Regions from separate parts of the Homo sapiens genome. Here all the other regions are linked to region 2. The links come from fine-mapping of genetic effects on gene expression. A gene starts in region 2. Each other region holds a variant in brackets. All regions are shown on one strand. Distances are from middle to middle. Region 1 overlaps FCGR2B (Fc gamma receptor IIb). Region 2 holds the start of FCRLA (Fc receptor like A). Region 3 has its middle 12 kb from the start of FCGR2B.

Region 1 (6,044 bases), 26 kb after region 2:
AAATGGCAGAAGAGGAAAAGGTATAGCCTTTTGTGAATCTATTTCAAAACAAGAAGTTTAGAAATTAATGAATAATACAGTAAATATAAATGAAATCTAAGAAAGAAATAATACATTAGAAAACAAGCAAAAGGCAAAGTACTTGAGCCAGAAGTCAAAAGCTGATACAAGACTAATAAAGCAAACCTTTGGTAAGTCTGATTAGGATGAACAAAGAGATAGTGTCAGGATGGGTGACTCTCCAAATGATTAAGCTAAGTGAATTATGGTCATCTCAGTCCCCTTTCTCGTGATGGTTTTAAGAATGAGCATGTGACCCAGTCGTGACCAATATGATATGATGGGAAGATGGTTGCAGAACTTCTGAGAAAATGTTCCTCATTGTCAAAAAGAGACACAAGGCCAGGCACAGTGGCTCACGCCTATAATCCCAGCACTTTGGGAGGCCGAGGCAGGTGGATCACCTGAGGTCAGGAGTTTGAGACCAGCCTGGCTGGTCTCTACTAAAAAATACAAAAATTATCTGGGTGTGGTGGCGCATGCCTTAATCCCAGCTATTCAGGAGGCTGAGGCAGGAAAATTGCTTGAACCCAGAAGGCAGAGATTGCAGTAAATGGAAATTGCGCCACTGCAACTCTGTCTCAAAAAAAAAAAAAAAAAAAAAAAAGGCTACACATAAAAGGAATAGTTAGTCCCTTTCTTTCTATAGTGGTCTGGGTATGATGCTGCTTAGAACCGTTATAATCATCTTGCTGCTAGCTCAAGGGCAGTGCTCACAGAATTGTAGAAAAGTGGACCAAGAGTTCTGATGTGCTAGAAACTGTCTGTCTCTGGACTTTTTGTTATGTGAGATAATACATTTCCTTAATGTTTAAGCCAATTTGAATCACGATTTCCTGTTATTTCCAACTGAAGTCATCCTAACTGATAAAAGAAAGAAAACCCAAAACCTAGGAATGAGAGGAGGGACATAAACACAAACACACAACTTATTACCAAAAAATAGGGGAAAAGTGCGATGTACCACTGCATACCAATAAAATGGATGATTCCTAGGAAAGCAAAAGTTTTCAAAATTGACTCCCGAGAGAGAGAAAATCATAACCAGACCAAAAATGACAGAAAGAAAAGTCTGTCAAAGATCTGTCACAAAAAAATGTGCCAAGCTCATATGATATTATAGGAAAATTCTGTAAGTCTGAATGAATGAAGAGTTGTAACTTAGGAAGCCTCAATATGACACAGATGTCAAACCTTACCCAAATAATCTATAAATGCAATGCAATTCTACCAATATCATAATAGTGTTATGGAATTCTTAAGTACATCTGGAAGAGAAGCAGCACATTAGTAGCCAAGAAAACCTTGAAACAAAAGAATGAGAGAAAACTTGACCTTCTATATATCAAAGTACACTATAAAGTTGCAATAACTAAAAATGTGGTATTGATGCAGAAATAGACAAATAGAACAATGTAATAGAAGAGAGGCTAAAAATAGACCTATGAGTGGGAATTTAGGTGATAAATTAGGATTTCAAATTATTAAACTGTTCAACAAATGATATTGGAACAACTGACTTTCATATGGAAAAATTATATTAGGTTCTCACCTTACACCAAGTCCAAAAATAAGTTCCAAATATAGTAAAGATCTATTTAAAGCATTTAAGAGTTTTAGATAAATATAATATTATTTCATTCGTTAACTCATTCAATAAATAGTGATTGCATTGTTCTAGTCTCTGGAATACACCAGTGAATAATACAAACATCCTGCCCAGAGTGAGCTTACATTTTAGAACTTGTAAGTAAATATTTAAGCAAAAAAATGCATGATTACATACAGTGATAGATACCATGAAGGAAATAAGAGCAGAGGAATAGCAGTAGGGGAAGTGCAGTCAGGGATGTCCTTCCTGAAGAGGATATTTGAAAGAACTCATCAAACTCTACCGAGCATGCTCAAACAAAGTGCTTATTTAAAAGTATAGCAAGAGAAAGAAAGTCTAGGCAATTACTGGGAGTCCAAGAGATTCCATGTGCAAGCTCCCTAGCATCCTTATAGTTACCGTAACTTATTTACGCTTTTTGTCTGGATTAAACCACCGGGATCCATACAAGGAATCTTGGCTATGGGAGAGCTCAAAGCAGAAGTTCCTAGAGGGATTTTTATGCCCCCTCTGGCTACGTAATCATGCCAACTATCTAAATGGCTTATTGAAAAACTATCAGTAAAGAAACTGACCCTGGGGATCAGGAGTCAAGTTTCAGACTTTAGGTAGCATGTCAGGGCCAGGCACCGTGGCTCACACCTGTAATCCCACCACTTTGGGAGGCTAAGTGGGGAGGATCGCCTGAGGCTCACAGTTTGAGATCAGCCTAGACAACATAGCAAAACCCCGTCTCTACAAACTATTTTTTTTTTTTTTGAGACCGAGTCTCTCTCTGTTCCCCAGGCTGGAGTGCAATGGCATGATCTCGGCTCACTGCAACCTTCGCCTCCCAGGTTCAAGCAATTCTCGTGCCTCAGCTTCCCAAGTAGCTGGGACTAAACAGTCATGAGCCACCACACCCAGCTAATTTTTGTATTTTCAGCAGAGATGGAGCTTCACCGTTTTAGCCAGGCTGGTCTTGAACTCCTGACCTCAGGTGATCCACCCACCTTTGCCTCCCAAAGTGCTGGGATTACAGGCATGAGCCACCGCGCCCAGCCAAAAAGTTCTTTTTTTTTTTTTTTTTTTTGAGACGGAGTCTCTGTCGCCCAGGCTGGAGTGCAGTGGTGCAATCTTGGCTCACTACAAGCTCTGCCTCCCGGGTTCACGCCTTCTCCTGCCTCAGCCTCCCGAGTAGCTGGGATACAGGCACCCGCCACCAAGCCCAGCTAATTTTTTTTTTTTTGTATTTTTTTTAGTAGAGACGGGGTTCCACTGTGTTAGCCAGGATGGTCTCGATCTCCTGACATCATGATCCACCCGCCTCGGCCTCCCAAAGTGCTGGGATTACAGGCGTGAGCCACCATGCCCGGCCAAAAAATTCTTAAAAATTAGCCAGGTGTGGTAGTCCCAGCTACTAGGAAGGCTGAGGTGGGAAGACCACTTGAGCCCAGGAGTTTGAGGCTGCAATGAGCTGTGATCCTGCCACTGCACTCCAGCCTGGACTACAACCCTATCTCTTAAAAAAAAAAAAAAAAGAAAGAAAGAAAAGGGAAGAGGATAGAGGGAACTGATGACAAAATGGAACTTCTACTTTTTACTCCTTATCTTTCTGTATTATTTGGGCTTACATGCTTACAATGAGCATACATTTTTGCCTGAGTGTATTTATTAACATGTAAAATATATGATATGATCCAATTTTTTTTTTTTTTTGAGACAGAGTTTCACTCTTGTTGCCCAGGCTGAAGTGCAATGGTG[C/G]GATCTCAGCTCGCTGCAACCTCTGCTTCCCAGGTTCAAGCGATTCTCCTGTCTCAGCCTCTCGAGTAGCTGGGATTAGATCCAATTTTTAAAACACAAATACACACTGCCACAGACAGGAATATGGATTGATATCCTTAAATGTTAGCATTAATTATTTCTGGTTTATGGATTTATGGGCGATCTAATTTTTTTGTTTTCCCTATCTGTATCTTAATTTTATAAAAAGAATACATTATTAGTGTAGTGAAATAATTTACATATAAATAAAAGGAAATAAGTTACTACTATGCAATTTATAAATAAAGGGACATACATTGTATCTACAAAAATGGGCAAAGAATAAATACACAGGAAACTCACAAAAGAGGAAATATAAAAGGCTAATCGTAAATTCTCTAAATTCTAAAGCATATAGTTTGGCACAAACTATATGGCACAAAGTAAGTCCTTAATAACGCAGTAATTTTAATTATTATCCCTTATTACTAAAACAATAAGTGTGTATGAAATCTGATTGTGGGACCATAAAAAGTGAGTACTTTTTATCCTACCATAAAAAGTGCAACAAATGTTGCACGATGTTACTGCGTAGAGTCCCAGGAAAATGAAGCCTCTCCAAGGGCACTCACCAAACCCTCAAGGAGACTGCCAGTCATGTTTCTAATCTGCCTGAGATGACTTCTCTGAGAAGGTCACATCCTTCTGGTAACTACATTGGGAGAATAGCAGAGCAGGACATGTCAGCAATCTCCACTCAGGGCTCATCTGAAGTTTGACTTCCCGTGAACTTGTGTTGCAAAACAGTGTTTTATTTGCCATAGGAGGAAAGAGAAGAAGACATGGAAACAAGAATACAAGGTCATTGGCAGAAGAGTACAGTCATGCATTGTTGAAATATGGGGATACATTTTGAGAAATGCAGGCAATTTTGTTGTGTGAACATCATAGCAGGTACTTATACAAACCTAAATGGTGTGGCCTACTACACACCTAGGCTGTAGCGTATAGCCTATTGCCCCTAGGCTACAAACCTGTACAGCATGCTACTGTACTGAATACTTTAGGCAATTGTAACACAATGGTAAGTACTCATATATCTAAACATAGGAATAGAAAAGGTACAATAGAAATATGGTATTATAATTTTATGGGATCACCATCATATATGCAGTCTGTTGTTGAACTAAACATCATTATGTGGTGCGTGACTGTATTCAGTTTTAAGAAAAGGGGCACTCACTCTACATTCTAAATCCCCATCTCTCCTCTCCTCCCCCTATCCTATCCATTCCTGCCTTCCTAAGAGTCTCATCACTGAAGAGAAACAGACCCCAGGCAGTTCAGTCTACACTCCAACCAATACAGCCTTGAAAAGGTAAACAGAATGTTGTTTTTATAATGTTTTATTATAAAAGTAATATATGATCTTTATAGAAAAATAAAGAAAATAAAAATCATCAATAATTTTATCACCCAGAAACAATCACTTTTAATGTGCTGGTAGAGGTTAGTCTATTTTAACATTTCTGAAATCATATAGATTTACATGATTGTTCTCACGTAACCTGTAACATAAGCATTTCCCAAGTTGCTATTATCTGTTAATAACAGTGGTTTGATTAATTGGATTGGCTGTGTGGATGTGGAACGGAAGAGCCTTGATGTCAAGAAGAGCTGAAGCACAGAAGGTGCAGTCGGTTATTTGGGACCATATTGTCTGTGGCTTTCAGGACAGGGAGCTTCAGGACTCAGGTAGATGACTCTGGAAGAAACCTTCTCTTTTGGAACTGCAGCATCTCCCTGTCCTCCCCAAGGGGAATTTAGGCCAGGAAATACCAGATCTTCCCTCTCTGATTTTCTTCTCAAATCCCAATGCAAGACAATGGAGACTAAATACGGTTCTGGTCATCAGGCTCTTCCAGAGCATCCGGGTGCATGAGAAGTGAATAGGTGATTGTGTTCTCAGCCTAGAGAAGGCAGAAACCAGCAGTAAGGATCCACAGAGAGGGCCTAGGAAAGAAGGCAACAGAAAAGGCAACAGGGGAGAAGGGAGGGGGAGATGGCTGGGATCACTCACCCCAACTTTGTCAGCCTCATCAGGATTAGTGGGATTGGCTGTGGGAAAAAGAAGAAATATCAGCCAGAGCACTGCTGGAGAAGAGGGCCTGCCTGTGCTGATGCTGAGGCTGCAAAACCAACGCCCAAACTAGAGCCAAAGCAAGCACTGCTGACCCTGTCTTGGGCCTCTAGGCCAAGCACTGGGTAAATATGACCTCATTGATCGATGCATAGGGTAGCCCAGCCACAGCCTTCCGCAAAGGCCAAGGTGAAAAAGTGGAGCAGTCACTTGAGCTGCATTCTTTTCAGGGAATTGCTGAGCTTTCCTAGAAGCAAACCAGGGAGGCTTGGGATCTGAGATATTGGGGAAGAGGTGGGGGAGGGGGGTGTTCAGCATCAGAGTGAAGTAAAGTCCAGATTTTTGCTGGCCACAGACTTCAGGGAGAGAAGGCTGAGGGCCATTTCCACATTGTCTAAATGTAGTGCATCTTTGTTGGAACTTTGAAAAATATGGTACTCCATGGCATTAAAAAGAAAGAGAGAGTGAGTGAGAAAGGGAGGAAGGGAG
Region 2 (7,294 bases):
TAATTCTCATCACATCAGTACCAGGTGTTTTCTTTCCATCCTTTCTCCGCTCCCTTCACTGTAATGCTACCTCTTTTCAGTTCCTCCACTGTCACTCATCTGTGCTCTGCCTCCTCTCCATTTTTTCTTTTTAAAAATAAAATCTTATCCAGGCGTGGTGGCTCATGCTTATAATCACAGCACTTTGGGAGGTTGAGGTGGGAGGATCCCTTGAGCCCAGGAGTTTGAGACCAGCCTGGGGAACATAGAGAGACCCTGTCTCAACAAATAATTTTTTAAAAAATTGGCCAGGCCTGGTGGCACTTGCCTGTGGTCCCAGCTACTTGGGAGGCTGAGATAGGACGATTGCTTAAGCCCAAGAGGTCAAGGTTGCAGTGAGCAGTGATTGCACCACTGCACTCCAGCCTGGGTGGCAGAGCGAGACCCTGTCTCAAAACATAAAATAAAATAAAATAAAATCTTGTTGGGTTACTGGGAACTCACTCAATAAACCTTAGGTGGTAGGTATTATTATTTTCATTCTACAAATGAGAAAACTGAACCAGAAATAGAAAAAGTGATTTTCTAAAGTGACATAGAGCTGGTAAATAGAAGAGGGGCTTGAAACAGGAGTATCTGATTCCAAGTCTGCAGTTCTTATCACAAGACAAAAACAAAAAAACATTGTCACTACCCACAAATAGCTCTCAATTTAGTGGAAGACACAGGTAGATGAAAATATTATTTCAGCATAAGTAGGAAAATATTATAATAAGAAAAATGTATCGCAAGCAGCCATTGGAGCAGAAAGAAGCATTCAAGAAAAGCTACCTGGAAAAGATACCATTTAAGCTGAGTCTTTAGGGGTACCTACACATTTGCAAGGAGAAGGAGAGTAGGGTGCCATGGAAAGAACTCATTTCAGGTAGAGATAGTGGTATAAGCAAAGCCTTAGAGACAGGCAAGAGTCTGGTGTGTGAGTATGTAAATATGAACTGATTGAGATTTATTAGAGCATAAGTTACAAGGCTGAGAGGGTAAAAGTAGAGGCTGCTTGGCCTTTTGTGCCATGATAAAGAATTTGGGCTGGTAAACTTGAGTTTTAGAAATTACTCTGTCTGCAGGGTACAGAATTCATTTCAAGAACACAAGGTTTGGACGAGGAGATTAGTTAGGAATTTACTGGAATAGCCCAAGTCATAGAGGATGAGGGCTTGTCCTAAGACATTAGTGATGATCCAGGCAAGGGACTGCTTCTATGAACAATTTAGAAGGTAAAATTGGCCAAACCTAATGATTGATCAGATTTAGAGAATGAAAAAGAAGGAAGAGTCTGGGTTGTTTCTGAGGTTTATGGCCTTGTAAGGGTAGATGCTGGTGTCATTAGCTGAGATCAGAAAGTGGAAAATGAATTAGATGAGGCAGGGGCCAAAAGGACAGATAAGTTCAACTCTAGTCACATGGTGCAGAGACACTTGTGAGATATGTAGGTAGATATGTCTGGTATGAAGCTTGATATTTGAATGTGAAGCTCAAAAGCATGGTTAGGGTTGGGGATATGATTTGGGACTCTTAAATACAGAGTTATAGTGGCAAAAATTAAACAGACAAATAAGCTCATGAAGGAGATTGTGTAAAGAAAGAGGAGTACAGAGGCAAGGCTATAACTATAGAGAACACTAGTGTTTAAGGGGAAGAGAAGAGAAGCTATTAAGGGATCAAGAGAAGTCCATGTAGTACAAGGAGAAAATGGTGCCATGGAAGCCAGGGTAGTAGAGAATGCAAGAAGGAGTAAGTGATCAACAGAGCCCAGTGCAGCAGAGAAGTCCAGCAGGATATGAACTGAAAAGCATGCCATAACCCAGTCAATATAGAGATCGTTGTGCCCTAGACAAAACCAATTCCAGTGGAAGCCAGGCTGCAAGCATTGAGGAGCGTGTGAGAAGTGAGGAAGTGGAGATAGCAAGTGCAAACTATTCTTTTAAGAAAACTTGTCTCACAAGTGAAAGAAAAGAGTTGAGATTAGAGCTAGAGAGGATATCATGATCAGAGGGGACTTTCAGGATGGAAGATTTTTATATTCAGAAAGTAATTCAATCCTGTACACCAAACTTTCTTATACCTACCCTTCTTATTCCACCTGAATACTGCTTCTTTGGAGGGCCAGAATTAGTCCATGTTTCTTTCCTTCTGGTCCTTTCTCCCAAGGTAAGCAAAGCTCCATTCCCACACCAATATTCAAATATTTTACTTACCCAGTAGCATCTGGGCCACCCAGAGCACACCAAGGGAAAGGTAGAGGGCCCAGGCCATGAGGACACAGCCCAGCTTCATGGTGACTGTGTTTAGGTCTCCTGCAACCCCAACACTGATTTTCTTCAACATGAAACCTCTCAGATTAGAAAAGAGGAAGTAAATTTAACTGTCTCATCTCCTTGCATCTGGGGTCTGTTTTCATTTTCTAGTTTGTAATTGGCTTTCATCATTCAGATTTGGCCAACACGCTTTCAGCATCATCTGCACCCTTAGGGCTATGACAAAATGGTAGCACTCTCAGCTGTTCAAGAATTTACTCACAGAGCTCAGGGGCCTGTCAAAGCATGTCATTGTCTGATAGCCAGCTGGCCTTCATGTACACTCTGGGAAAGGTCAGTGCAACAACCACCCTTTTCACTGGTGATGCAACTGGGGACAGAAGGTGGGATGTTGTTTGAAGGCCAATAGAAAATCACTGGAGAATCAATGATGAGAATTCAAATGTCCTGCCCATTCCAACACTTATATGTTTCTAGTGACTAGAAGGTAGCGAGACAGAGAAGGAAGATTAGTCACGGCACCAAGTTAGATATCAGATTAGTCTCTAGTAGGCTCTGACTATCCAAAGCCCACACAAATTTGCATGCAAATTTCTCTAGACTCGTGTCAGCTCTCTATTTCTGGAGCATGACTAAGTCTGCTCAGTCTCAGTGGAAATATGAGTACAAGGCAGGGAGAATCCACTGGGAAAGAGTAGAGGAAAAAGAAAATCTATTCCCAGAGGATCCAGCAGTCAGCTCAGGGCTTAGGCTCATAGCCAAAGCTCAGGCCACTGATCCTGAGGAAATTAGAGATAGGAGGCATCCGATATCTTGAGAAACCTGAGGAGACTCAGGAATAGGAGCAATATAGAGGCTACAGCCTCTCCCTTCCGTTCCAGATGGCCTCCTGGGAACCATTGTCCCTGCCTCTGAATGTTTGCTATTTGTTTGAGGCCTACTTAATGGTAGGGCCCATGTGTCTTTTCACAGTGGCCACATTCCTCCCCTTTCTGTCATCATAACACCCACCAGGCCTCCAGTAGGTTATTTGGAGATGAAATGAGCCATCAGAAATGGGGTAAGGTAGGCCAGGCACTGTGGCTCATGCCTCTGTAATCCCAGCACTTTGGGAGGCCAGGGTGGGCGGATCACTGGACTGGAGGTCAGGAGTTCAAGACCAGCCTGGCCAGTATGGTGAAACCCCATCTCTACTGAAAAAAAAAAAAAAAAATTAGATGGGCATGGTGGTGCATGGCTGTAGTCCCAGTTACTTCAGAGGCTGAGGCATGAGTATCATTTGAACCCAGGAGGCAGAAGTTGCAGTGAGCCAAGATTGCACCACTGCACTCTAGTGTGGGTGACAGAGCGAGACTCCATCTCACAAAAAAAAAAAAAAAGAGAGAGAGAGAAATGGGGGAAGGTAGTTTGGTCCTCCTTGAAGGCAGAGAGAGGGACAGTATGACCCTTCAACTGTGCAAAAACCACAGGTCAGAGCAGACATATCAACCACACGGGCATAAGAGAGTGGATCTTTCTGAGTCTAAAATAAGCATTTAGAATAAAATTTCCATTATCGAGAGGCATACGCTTCTGTGCAGGTGGCCCCAGGGAGTCCAGGGGTGGTTGAATATGGGTGCTGGGGAAGGCAGTGAGGCAGTAAGCCTTGCAGCTGATGTGATGTGAAGCCTCAGAAGAGGAAGAAAAGCCTAGCTAGCCTTAATAATTTTTTTTTTTTTTTGAGATGGAGTCTCTGTTGCCCAGGCTTGAGTGCAGTAGCGCGATCTCGGCTCACTGCAACCTCTGCCTCCAGGGTTCAAGCCATTCTCCTGCCTCAGCCTCCCGAGTAGCTGAGACTACAGGAGCGTGCCATCACGCCCGGCTAATTTTTTGAATTTTTAGTAGAGATGGGGTTTCACCCTGTTAGCCAGGATGGTCTTGATCTTCTGACCTCGTGATCTGCCCACCTCGGCCTCCCAAAGTGCTGGATTACAGGTGTACGAATTAAACAAATAAAATGTGTTTAGATGCATCGCCACTCCTAAAACTACATAAAACATAGACCCTCAGGGTTAGGCAGAGGCTAAGGGGCTTCTAAACAAATCATGATATCTTTCTCTTCTTATGTCACCCTTTCTCCTTTACTGTCCTTACCATAGCATCTTACCTGGATAGAGACCCTCCCCTATACCATCTGCAGCAATCCTTGCAGGACCCCACTGTCAATATGGAAGGCAAGGGGCCTTCTGAAGATTTGGGGTGAAGCTATCAAGTTCTTTACACTGAAATTTCCATTAAGCTGCTGGGAAAATTTACTCGCTTGAAGCTTAATCAATGAACTATTTAGAATAGATGTGATTCACTGCGAGGAAAAAGCAACATTGGGTCTGCTGTTTGTTCATGGAGACTGAGATTCGGTTTATTGAGTAAGTTCCTCCATCAGGATCACCTCAGAATACTCAGGGGGAGATGGGACAAATCCCAGCTCTCATCCCATCCCAAGACCAATTAGGTGGTGGATGCCCTCCTTTGCCATTCCTGGCTTGTCACTAGTGGACTAATGCTTATCTCTTCTTTATTTTTAATTGAGTAGATAAAAATATTTATTAAAAATGTGAAGGTGTAAAAAATAATGCAGTGTATACTTTTGAAACCTTATATGGTTGAAGGAACAGACTAGTACTGTTATCCTTGAAGTACTGCATAGATCCCTGTCCGATTACACTGTCTTCCCTCCCCACCATCATCAACCACAATCTTTACCTTATATTTATCACTCTCTTTATTTTATGTAGTAATCATTTTGTATTTTTGAACTTTTAGTAAGTGGAATTGTACTGTATTTATCATTCTAAGGCTTTCTCTATTTTTTTTTTTTGAGATGGAGTCTCACTCTGTTGAGTGAGTGCAGTATGTTTGATCTCAGCTCACTGAAACCTCCACCTCCCGGGTTTAAGCGACTCTTCTGCCTCAGCCTCCCGAGTAGCTGAGTAGCTGGGACTACAGGCGTGTGCCACCACACCCGGCTAACTTTTGTATTTTTAGTAGAGACGGGGTTTCACCATATTGGCCAGGCTGGTCTCGAACTCCTGACCTCATGATCCACCTGCCTCGGCTTCCCAAAGTGCTGGGATTACAGGGGTGAGCCACCTTGCCCAGCCAACTTGCTTTCGTTTAACTCAACTGAAATACAACCTGATGTTCTGTGTAGCTATAGTTAACTAATTGTATTGCTGTGAAGTATTTCATCATGTGATCATGTCACAAATTATTCTATTGACAATGGACATGTGAGTTATTTTCAGGTTTTTGCTGTCAAAAACCATGCATCTATTCATGTACATAATTTGTTATTATAAGAGTTTCTCGAAGGTACATATATGAATGGAATTTTCTTATTGACTTTTAAGAGATTGTATATGTCCTAAACATAAATTTTTTGTCAGTCATATTTGTTACAAATATTTTTCAATTTATGGCTTGTCTTTTCATTTTGTGTTTGTAAAATCACTTTATTGAGAAATAATGACATACGCTAAATGCACATCTTTAAATTGTACAATTTGATGAATTTTAACAAAAGTGTGTACCTATGAAAACATGACCACAATCAAGATAATAAGCAGATGAATTACTCCTGAAAATTTACTTGTGCACTTTTGTAATCCCTTCCTCTCTATCCACCTTCTCCAGGCAACCACTAATCTGTTTTGTGTCATGATAAGTTTTCTATAGTTTACTGAGATTTTACATAGATGAAATCATACAGCATGTGCTCTTTTTGTCTGTCTTCTTTCATTCAGTATAATTATTTTCAGATTAGTCCATGTTGTTGTGTCTATCAACAGTTCTTTCCATTTTATTGCAGAGTAATATTCCACTACATGACTGTACCACACTTTGTTTATCCATTCACCTATTGTTTGATATTTGGGATGCTTCCAGTTACGGCTACTACAAATAAAGGTACTATAAACTTTCATGTACAAGTTGTATGGACACAGGCTTTCATTTATCTTGGGTACCTAGCAGTGGACTGGCTGGATCATATAGGTGTAGGTGTATTTTTAGGTAGTTTTTTAAATTTTATGTAGGTAATTTAATTTTTCTTTAAAAATTAAAAATATTTAATTTTTTAAGAAAATGCCAAGCTGTTTTCCAAATTGGTTGTATTAGCCAGGGCTCTTCAGAGAAACAGAATTAATATATGCATACAAGGAAACACAGGAATTGACTCAGGCAATTTTAGAGGCAGACAAATCCCACCCTCTGCTATCAACAAGCTGGAGAACCAACAAAACCAATGGTGTAATTCAGTTCAAGTCCAAAGGCCTGACAATCAGTGGAGTCAATAAGTCTCAGTCCAAGTCTGAAGACTCAGAACCAAGAGGGCTGGTGTCTGAGGGCAGTTAATGTCCCAGCTCAATCAGAGAGATCAAATTTGCCCTATCTCCATCTTTTTGTTTTATTCAGGCCCTGAGTGGTGGGATCATGCCCACATGCATTTGTGAGGACAGATCTTTATTCACTCTTCCAATTCAAATGCTAATCTCTTCCATAAATATTCCTTTTTTTTTTTTTTTTTTTTTTTCCCAGACAGAGTCTCACTCTGTCACCCAGGCTGGAGTGCAAAGCCGTGATCTCGGCTCACTGCAACTTCCACCTCCTGGGTTCAAGCAATTCTCCTGCTTCAGCCACCCAAGTAGCCGGGATTGAAGGCGCCCGCCACCAACCCTGGCTAATTTTTGTACTTTTCAGTAGAGACAGGGTTTCACCATGTTGGCCAGGCTGGTCTCGAACTGCTGACCTCAGGTGATCCATCTGCCTTGGCCTCCCAAAGTGCCAGGATCACAGGCGTGAGCCACTGCGCCCAGCCCTCTTCCGTAAACATTCTCACAGACACAGCCAGACATAGTGTTTTACCAGCAGTCTGAGCGTCTCTTAATCCAGTCATGTTGACACATAGTTAACCATTACAATGGTTGAACCATTTTACAATCCCACCAGCAGTGTATGAGAGC
Region 3 (10,605 bases), 55 kb after region 2:
AAGTATTTTGTACGAGAGGACAGTGGAGGTTCCTGCTCAGCATCTGTTCTTTCCTGTGGCCTCCAGTCTCAGTAGAGACCCTAGGAGAAGAGTTTACTGTGACTGGAGCAGAAGAGCAGGCTGCAGTTAACTTGGTCCCTGGCAGAATTACAGAAGTAAAATGAGGTCTTCAGGAATCACTGGAGGGAAATGATACTGAGAGTGGCAATAGCAACAAATTCTGAGCAGGAAAGCAATAACTCATGGGGATCAACTAGTGACTGATTTACTCAACCCATATGCAGTGCTCTAACCCAATGTTGACTCTGCTAGGTAAGAAAGATGGGGTGGGGATGGATGGGAGGAAGAAATGAAGAAATGAGAAGAACAGTGGTCTCTGTCCTGAGGAACCCTCATTACAATGGGAAAGATAGGATACATGCAGGAGACAGATATAAAAACAATACAAACCTATCCTGTGCTTCACCTGAATTAGAGCAGAAAGTCGTAGAATTAAAAATTGAGGCTGGGCACGACGCCTGATGCCTGTAATCCCAGCACTTTGGGAGGCCGAGGCAGGTGGATCACCTCAGCTCAGGAGTTTGAGACCAGCCTGGCCAACATGGTGAAACCCCATCTCTACTAAAAATACAAAAAATTAGCCAGGGGTTGTGGCACGTGCCTGTAATCCCAACTATTTGGAAGGCTGAGACAGGAGAATTGCTTGAACCCGGGAGGTGGAGGTTGTAGTGAGCCGAGATCACGCCATTGCACTCCTGCCTGGGTGACAGAGTAAGCGACTCAGTCTCAAAATAAATAAATAAATAAATAAATAAAAATTGAGGAAAAGTGTGAGTGTTAGAAGAAACAATTGATTATAGAGCCAAAATATCTAATCAGAAAGATTGTGATTTCAGACATATCTGCATAATCTCTCTTCTTTACCTCCTCCCCCTGTAGCCCACTATCACCCTGCATTGACAGCCAAGAGCTGAGAGCCCCCGGAGCTGATCAGATTTCACTAGCAATCACAGCACACAACTTGGATGAGTGGCAATATGCTTTCCTCTAGAATGTGAAGGTGGAAGGCCCAAGAATCGAGCTTGGAGTGATAGTCCTGGCAGTAGGTCTCCCCTACTTGGCCTCCCATAGGCTTTTCCAACCACCCAGCATGATCGGTCCCTGTCCCCTGTCCAACAGCTGAGAATATGGTCAGAAAAGAGCCCTCCAATTTGAAGGGTAGTTCTGAATATTAAGGTACTTCTGAATAGTAAGAAGTAATAACATAAATATATGAAGAATATAGTAGCTCAGAGAAACAGGCTTGCACCATGAAGGGTTAGGACAGTCATAAAATGGAAATCATGTTTATATGAGAAACAACATAGCCTCAAGGGAAACAAAAGCCAGTATCAGGCTTTGGTGAAAACTTAGAACAAGGAGAGATTGTAAACTAACCAGAGGTGTGAAGAGCAAATAGCAGAGCCTACCTACATAGCACAACTCCTGCCTGCATGGCCATCAGGACACAGTCAGTGCCGACCTCAAGGACACTTTTGATGATAACTTTTAAAACATACCATTTTACTTTCTGCTTTTTAGATTATCAAGTCATGTGAGAAACAGATAACTTCATCTAATTTCTGTGCTTAAATTCATTATGCCCTGCCATTCTGGTGATTTTTCATTTTGGACTTGGCCATTTTGATTTGTGGTATAAAAACAGCTGTGAAAACCAGCCTCATTAAAATGTTTTCATTAGAAACACCCCCCAAAAAAACCTGTATTAATTAGAAACACCTGAAAAAAAACAGATAATACACAAAGTGATAACTTTTCTTGAACCCATCAGAGTGCTGAGGTAGTGAGGCAACCAAATACCCTGAAATCTAAGAAAAGACAGGTGTTTCTAAAGAGGGCTAGGATATGAGCACAGGCTCACCTGTAAGACAGCGTGGAAGGAAGGCAGGGCTACCATTCAAATGGGTTAGAAGAATTCAGCTAAAATTTTTAATAAATCGCTGAAAGCCAGATGTGGCCAAGAACTGAGAGCTCATGATACAAGGGCCATTCCTACGCATTTGAAGCATCTTCATGGGCCTCCACCAGAGCTCATGAAAAGCTTGTGGCCAGGGAATACATACCTAGGTAATGGAGCAGCCATCATTCTGGGAAAGGCATGAAGCCCACCTGAATCCTTTTTTCTAAGGAACAAATGTCTTAAATCACTGGAAGAAGGGCCCAGGGCACAGGAAAAGAGCCCATTACACCTGGAGGAAAGGAACAGGAAAAAACAACAACAACAACAACAAAAAACAAACATCTCTCTACCCTTGGGGAAGGGGCTGGAAACCATCCCGAGCCTAGATGATTACAGGTCTTCTACCATTGGGTGAGATCTAGGATCACTGAAAAAGCCCTGTCCTCAAGATCCAGGGACAGAAGGCCCGACTAAAACTGAGGCGGGACTAGAACAGCTGTCACAGCCCCACACGTTCTTCTTAGCCACTGCCCTGAAAAAATCAATAAGAACAGCGGCTATTGCAGCAAAGAAAGAGTTTAATAATCACAGGGCCAGCCATGTGAAGAGAGCAAGCAGCAATTTCTCAAACACATCTCCCTGACAATTCAGAGACTAAGGTTTTTCATGGGTACTTTGGTGGGCAGGAGGCTTGGAAACTGGAACAATCGATTGGCTGGGGATGAAATTACAGGGGTGTCTAAAGCTGTCTTCACGCAGCCAAGTCAGTTCCCAGGAGTGGGTGGATCTCAGGACCTAGTGGCGTCTCTTGGTCTACTGAAATGTTGAATCTGAAAAATACCTCGAAGACTCGTTCTTCAGGGTTCACAATAGTGATGTTATCTATAGGAGTAGTTGGGGAAGTTATAAATTTTGCAATCCCCGGTTACGTGACTCTGGTGCAGTAAGCAACATGCTACTGTAAGGACACATGGAAAGCAAGGAAGTGAGGAAGACACACTAAGCAATGGCAGGTCATTGTTTAACTGAGTCTATTCTTCAGCAAAGTTAAAGTCCCTACCGTATTTTAACCTTGTCTTATGAATGCAGTTTCAATCTTGAACAAGGAGGGAGATCAGTTTCCCTTGACTCAAAGTTTAACTATAAACGTCACTCATAGCTATTTTGACCTCCATGCTAGAATAAGAAAAAAAAAACTCGCCTGTGGGTTAGAAGCAGGATGGAGTCAGTCATGTTAGATTTCTCTCTTTATTCGTTTATTTTTTATTTTTATTTATTTATTTATTTATTTATTGAGATGGAGTCTTGCTCTGTCACCCAGGCTGGAGTGCAGTGGTGGGATCTTGGCTCACTGCAAACTCTGCCTCCCTGGTTCAAGCAATTCTCCACCTGCCTCAGCCTCCCAAGTAACTGGGATTACAGGTGCCTGCCACCATGCCCAGCTAATTTTGTATTTTTAGTAGACACTGGATTTCACCATCTTGGCCAGGCTGGTCTCGAACTTCTGACCTCAGGTGATCCACCTGCCTCAGCTTCCCAAAGTGCTGGGATTACAAACATGAGCCACCACGCCCAGCCAGATTTCTCTCCTTATTTATATATATATTCTGCAAAGGCAATTTCACAACAGATAAACCTCTGCCCTACCTCCCAGCCTAGCAAGTACTGAATAAGAAGCAAAAGTACTCTGCCACTGAAGAGAGAATCTCTGAGGTGCAGGCACATACTTTAGAAAGTCCTAAAGTTGGGGTAGTGCAGGAAAATTGAGAAAATACCATCCGGGAATACCGGTGTCTCTTGGTCTACTGAAATGCTGCCTCCACCCAAGCACAAGATAACACTAGAAGAATTTGAAGGTAACTATGGCAATAATAAAACCCGAACCCAGCTCAACTCTTGACTAGATTGGCCCACACTAAGAGCTTACCAGAATAAGAGGGGTGCTCATTTCCAATCATAAATGCAATTTACCTCAGTCCCTACTGTCCTACATATAATGTCCAGAATTCAATAAAAACAATGAGCCAACACAGAAAAGCAAGGTTTAAAAATCCTGTCAACAGACAATGCAAGCAATAGAAACTGCTAAAAGATGATTCAGATGTTGGTACTATCAAATAGGGAATTTTAAAATCAAACCATTAATTACAACCATACTTAACATGTTAAAGGCTCTAGTGGAAAAGGTAGACAACATACATAAACAGATGGGGAATTTCAGCAGAAAGATAGAAACTATATGAAGAGTCAAATGGAAATGTTAGCAAATTTTGAAACAGAGTAAAAGAGAAGAGGAATGTATTTGACAGGGTCATCAGTAGATGCCATACAGCTGAGAAAAAAAAAAATCAGTACTTTGAAAATGGGTTCATAGAAATTACCCAAACTTAAATTCAAGGAGTAAAAAAAAAGAAAATAGAACAGAACACCCAAGAACTGTGGGACAATGTAAACTGGCCTAACATATATGTAATTGAAATCCCAGAGAATAGAGAAAGAATGGGAGAGAAGAAACATTTAAAGAGAAAATGGCCAACAATTTTTCAAAAATAATGGAAGTTATTAAACCACAGATCCAAGAAGGACAAAGAAGCATAGGCAGACTAAAATACACACACACACACACACACACACACACACACACACACACACACTCCTAAACATATCATATTTAAACTGCTGAAAATCACAGATAGAGCATTATTAAAATGCCCATAGATCTTTATTTTATTTTATTTTATTTTATTTTATTTTATTTCAGTTTTTGAGATGGAGTTTCGCTCTTGTTGCCCAGGCTGGAGTGCAATGGCACAATCTCAGCTCACCACAACCTCTGCCTCCTGGGTTCAAGCAATTCTCCTGCCTCACCCTCCCAATTAGCTGGGATTACAGGCATGCGCCATCACGACTGGCTAATTTTGTGTTTTTAGTAGAGATGGGGTTTCTCCATGTTGTCAGACTGGTCTCAACTCCCGACCTCAGGTGATCCACCCCCCTCGGCCTCCCAAAGTGCCAGGATTACAGGTGTGAGCCACTGCGCCCGGCCAGATCTTTATTTTAAAAATTTTGATTGGAGAGCTAGGATGCCAGTGCCACCACTCTAGCCAGCCACAAAGGAGATAATCAGAAGTTATATTGGCGGAAATGTCAAAATATCTAAATCTTTCTCTTGGCCAACTAAACTGGCTGGAAGATTTTAAAAGAAAAGTTTTCTAAGATATGAAGATAAGCAAAAGAAGAGTACAGAGCCTAGTTTCTAATGCACGATAATACTTTGCTTCCAAAATAAACGGGAACCCAGACCTTGTTTTCTGATCTTCCCTTCAAGACCAAAACCTCAGGCCATCTCCTCATCTGCAGTTTTCCTTATCTCTCCCTTGGCAGAAGAAGTCATTTTTCTTTCTGAATCTCAAAGTTTTCTTCCCCGAGTTGTCCTAAATGTTGCATTGGGCCCTATCACTGGAAATGCCTTTTTTACTCTAAGCCCAGGGAGAACTCAGAATTCTCTCACTTCTCTAAGAAGTGATTTATGAACCCCAGGGGCACTATGCAGTCTTTTACGATGTACCCTTGCAGTTTGCAGGGCCAAAATACTCTGAAGTCATTCACCATCTGTTTCATCACGACTTACCAGGGTTCCCCTCCTGGTGTCCCTCTGATGACTCCCCTTACTCTCCCTGAACACTCCTCTGTCTTCACCTGTCCATTAAATATTGGTGTTTGTTCAGCTTTCTGTCCTCTACATAATTCTCTATCAATAATTTTCTAAGTGAGAAGAGACCCCCTCAAAGGGTGCATCAGAACTGGAGGGGGAAGGAGAGGTAGAGGTGTAATTTTAAAAGCCTTTTTAGCATTATAATACAATTTAATACTTGTAAACTTGACAAACTAGATATGAAAATTAAGATAAAATTAAACAAAGTATGTTTATGTTCAAAGAGGTTGAAAATGAACTTTAAAGGGCTAAGAAACGTGATCCTGCATATGTCTTACTACTTCTAAATGATTTTATCTACATTCTTGGCTTCCTCTACACCAGTGGTTCTCAACAGAGTTGGTTTTGCCCCCCGCTCCCAGGGGACATTTGCCAATGTTTGGAGACACTTTTGGCTATTACAACTGGAGAGGGCTTCCCCTGGCATCTATTGAGTGGAGGCCAAGAAAGCTGCTAAATGTCCTCCAGTGGAGAGCATAGCCCCCCACAACAAAGAATTATCTGGCCCCCTGTGTCAATAATGCTGAGAATGAGAGCCTTGCTTCACTCCCTATATGCTGATGACTCCTCAGTCTTTATCTCCGGCCAACACTTTTCTACTTAACTCTAGAAAGATACATTAATATATTTATCATATATAATATATATAATATAATGATAGCTACCTACTAGGCATTTCCACTTC[A/T]AAACTTTTTTTTGGCAGGGCACAGTGGCTCATGCCTGTAATCCCAGAACTATGGGAGGCCAAGGATGTCAGGAGTTTGAGACCAGCCTGGCCAACTTGGCAAAACCCCATCTCTACTAAAAATACAAAAATTAGCCAGGCATGGTGGCGTGTAGTCCCAGCAACTCAGGAGGCTGAAGCAGGAGAATCACTTGAACCTGAGAGATGGAGGGTGCAGTGAACAGAGATCATGCCACTGCACTCCAGCTTGGGCAACAGAGTGAGACTCTGTCTAAAAAATAAAACACACATACGCATATTTTTTTTTCTAAAACAAAATTCACTTATTTCTCCCAAATGTACTCTTCTTTCTCTAAGATCTACTAAGACAAAATCCTTCAAATTAATGTATCTACCATTCCCATCCAATCAATAAAGTTCTTGCACGTTTCTTTTCCTCTTGCCAATTACTAGCAGTAGAAAACCTTCAGGCAAGTCATTTAATTTCCCCATGCCTTGGTTTTCTCAACCATAAAATAGGAATAATAATAGTACAACGGCCTCCTAGTTATAAACAACACAAGTTTATTTCTTATAGCTCTAGAAGCTGCGAAGTGCAAGATCAAGGTGCCAGCAGACTCTTTGGTGAGAGGTCGCTCTCTGCTTCTTAGATGGTAGCTTCCGTGTCCTTTAATGGCAGAAGGGCTGAAACAAGCCTTTAACTAGTCATCCTGCCTCAGTCTTGCTCCGTTCCAATTCATCTTTCATAGGGTTTTCAAAAAGATTTATCAATTGTTCATGAAAAGATGTCATTTAGTGGTCACTTGCACCCTGCTAAACTTCTGCCACCATCACAATGAAGATGACAGCAGGGTAGAGTTGTATCATGGTGAGAAATGAACTTCCATTCTTTGTGCTGAAATGGCTCAAGAAATTTTCAGCCCTCTTCTGCAAAACTTTTCTTTTAAAGAGGTAAAAGGTAACGGATTTACCTATGGAAATTGACCTGACATTCATATTATTGGCAGTGATTTTGATAGCATGCAAAAAAGTAAAAGAGGAGTTTCATAACACTTCTACTTTCAATCCTCTTCCTTTGACACTAACTGCTTTCCTCATTAATATTACGGTTGTATCTGAGTTGGCTTATGAGCCTTCTGAAAGTGATGTGTCAGAAATTACTACTGAGATGGTGAAAAGGTATTTAGAGTTCCATTTTTTAGGTTAGAGGTTGTAATGTCTAAAAGGTTTTCTGTAGAATGCATTATTAACTTGTTTTAGAAGAGTCATGCTTCAGTGACCTTCATAACTGTATTCATTAATCTCCCAAATATACATTACAGATTTTCTCAAATAATACAAAATATATTTTTGGTATAATCATTATTGAAATATAATATTAAAAAAAGTTCCAGCCTGACAAACATGATGAAATTCCATCTCTATTAAATAAAAATTAAAAAATTAGTCAGGCATGCTGGTGTGTGCCTGTAGTCCCATCTACTCTGGAGGCTGAGGCATGAGAATCACTTGAACCTGGAACATAGAGGTTACAATGAGCCAAGCTTGCGCCACTGTACTCCAGCCTGGGCGACAGAGCAAAACTCTGCCTCAAAAAAAAGAAAGAAAAAATTAAGACATCATTTGAAAAGTTAGTAGGAAAGCCACAGAGTAGGAGGAATATTTGTAATAGGTATATTTGACAAAAGACATATCTAAAATACATAAAAAACTATTAAAAATCAATGAGAAGATAAGCTAATTCGTAAGTGTGCAAAAGCCTTAAACAGAAACATCATAAAAAAGGATATCCAAATGACCAAATAAGCACATAAAAAGATAATAAGTCACTACTTATCAGGGAAACGCACATTAAAAACACAATATCACTGTATACCCACCTGGGTGGCTAAAGTTTAAAAGATTAACAAGACCATGATATACCTCAATTAAAAACAAACAAGAAAATCTCAAATTGCCTAATAGGTTAGATCACCACCCTACTCAAAATTCTTCAATGATTTTACATTGCTTTCAGGATGATATTAAACCCTTCAAAGTGACATTCAAACACTTCGGGATGGCACATAGCATCTGAGAGTGTATGTAATATCACAGCTGCCCCACGGCACAGGATGCTATGTGCCATACTGAAGATTCCAGCACCTAGAGTCTTGAGGTATATTGCGGTCTTGTCAGATTCTGCCCAATCCTATTCTTAACTTCCCCAAGCTTGCCATGCTATTGCCATGTTTGAGCCCATGCTGCTTTCTGTGAACAAAGCTATCTTCCCAACTCATACTTATCCTTCAAGATCAAACTCCTTCTCCATAAAGCCTTCCATGAGTTACACATAGCTAAACTGTTGTTCACAAGACGAAGGGTCGTCTACGAGTCGCTGACTCTCCGGGATCTGCCCTACTTTCACAAGGACATGCCCCATTTATGAACACACGAAGCACAGTGTGCCATATTTTGGGTACCTTGACCTGAGGAGAATGTTGTAAATGGATTTGTTTTATTTCTTCTGGGCTTAGAAATGTAAACTGTTTGCTGTTCTCTACTGCCCTCTGTTGAAACAAAAGTGGACAATATACATCTCTTCTGCAGGACGAAGGAATCCAGTTTACAAGGAAATGAAAGAGAGATCTGAGTGGTTTAATGCAAGAAACAGCCAACTAATGGTCTAGGGGAGTGAAATTAAGAGTCCAGAGCAGGCCGGGCACAGTGGCTCACACCTCTAATGCTAGCACTTTAGGAGGCCGAGGCGGTGGGGGGAATCACCTGAGGTCAGGAGTTCAAGACCAGCCTGGCCAACATGGCAAAACCCTGTCCCTACTAAAAGTACAAAAATTAGACGGGCATGCTGGTGGGTGCCTGTAGTCCCAGCTACTCAGGAGGCTGAGGCAGGAGAATTGCTTGAACCCGGCAGGCGGGGGTTGCAGTGAGCCGAAATCACACTACTGCACTCCAGCCTGGGTGACAAGAGCGAGACTCAATCTCAAAAAAAAAAAAAAAAAAAAGAGTCCAGAGCAAAGAGAACCCGGGGCTGCACTTACCTTAAGCCACTTGGTCTGCTCTTCTGATTGAATGTCTCTTGACCTCAGCATGACTTCAGACAGTGGTACTCAGAAAGAAAGGCTTGATTCATTCATCCGCACTCTGGCTTTAGACCCTTAGTGAGGAGGGTGGCATTTGAAGTTGTAGTAGAAAACTAGGAGTTAGATTCTAACACCTACGGTCTGCAACGCAAATGCGTTGGAACCTCCCCATCAGGCCTGTTTTGCCCTTTAACTGTATCAAGTGCATGTGTCTCCAGCAAGGGTAAAATTCAGGAGGGTGGGAACTTGGTCCTAAGCCAAACATGCTGAAGGATGCTGGAAAATGGTCCTGGGGAAGGTTGAAGCCATCCTCCTTAGTAGCAAGTAAATACTTGACAAGAACATTTGAAGAACTGTGAATGAGGCTCTAACCAATTCAAACTTGCCTCCTTGTCACTGGAAATAGACCTGCTGCAAGGTATCAGCAAATAAGGAGTCATCTCTTTGGCTTCCAGTTAATTTTCTAAAAGCACAATTCAGCTCCAGTCTGTGTCTCTAGCTCTAGCCCAGATTTCTCCTTCCAGTTACCCAGCTGATATTGACCACTCTCCTGCTATGTCCACAGGCACCTCAAACGCAGAATATCCAAACCTGAACTTACCATCTCTCCCCAACCCCTTCCAGCTAAGCTTCTTTCCATCATATTCCCCACCTCAGGGAATGGCACCTCCTAAAGCAGGAATCTGGATATCATTGTGATTCCCACATTCTCTTTCATAACCCACATCCAATTGTGCCGGTTCTTCTTGCTAAATATCTCAACCCCACCACCATTACCTTAGCCTGAGGCTATCTTCATCTGCCACCATGACTACCGCAAGAGACCAACTCATCTTTCTGCTCCCAGTCTTACTCCTCCAGCCTATTTACAAGCAGCAACCAGAGTAATTTTGTTAAAGTACAAATTATATTATGTCACTTTCCTGCTTCAAATAATTCAGTGGCTCCCCACACCCTCACGACAAAACCCAAACTCCTTAATGTGTTCTGTAAAGCACTGTGATACCAAAAACCATTTACTCCACTGCAGCTTCATCACACTGTCCTACTCTCCTCATACTCAGAATACAACAAACTCTGCTCTAGGGGAGACTCTTTGATCTCAGTATAGACATTTTCTACGCTAGAGGCCTGTTCTGGCATCCTACGATTGAAAGGTTCAAGA

Evidence for each region.
Region 1: its variant is fine-mapped to the expression of FCRLA in whole blood (TOPMed, PIP 0.90).
Region 3: its variant is fine-mapped to the expression of FCRLA in whole blood (TOPMed, PIP 0.96).

Annotation. Positions count from the first base shown.
Region 1 is chr1:161,676,817-161,682,860 of GRCh38, reverse strand. It overlaps FCGR2B (Fc gamma receptor IIb), which reads right to left. Exons shown (of 8, transcript NM_001394477.1): 7 at 5,496-5,533; 8 at 4,207-5,385. The coding sequence ends at 5,308. Among named protein-coding and RNA genes, the nearest start is that of FCGR2B, 17 kb to the right of the region's middle. The variant C/G (reference allele first, on the strand shown) is at 3,416.
Region 2 is chr1:161,702,284-161,709,577 of GRCh38, reverse strand. FCRLA (Fc receptor like A) reads right to left here and starts at 2,349. Exons shown (of 5, transcript NM_032738.4): 1 at 2,235-2,349. The coding sequence starts at 2,313. RefSeq lists enhancers at 1,874-2,053, 3,594-3,813.
Region 3 is chr1:161,646,055-161,656,659 of GRCh38, reverse strand. It overlaps a transcript of FCGR2B not described here. Among named protein-coding and RNA genes, the nearest start is that of FCGR2B, 12 kb to the left of the region's middle. RefSeq lists a silencer at 9,166-9,225. The variant A/T (reference allele first, on the strand shown) is at 6,361.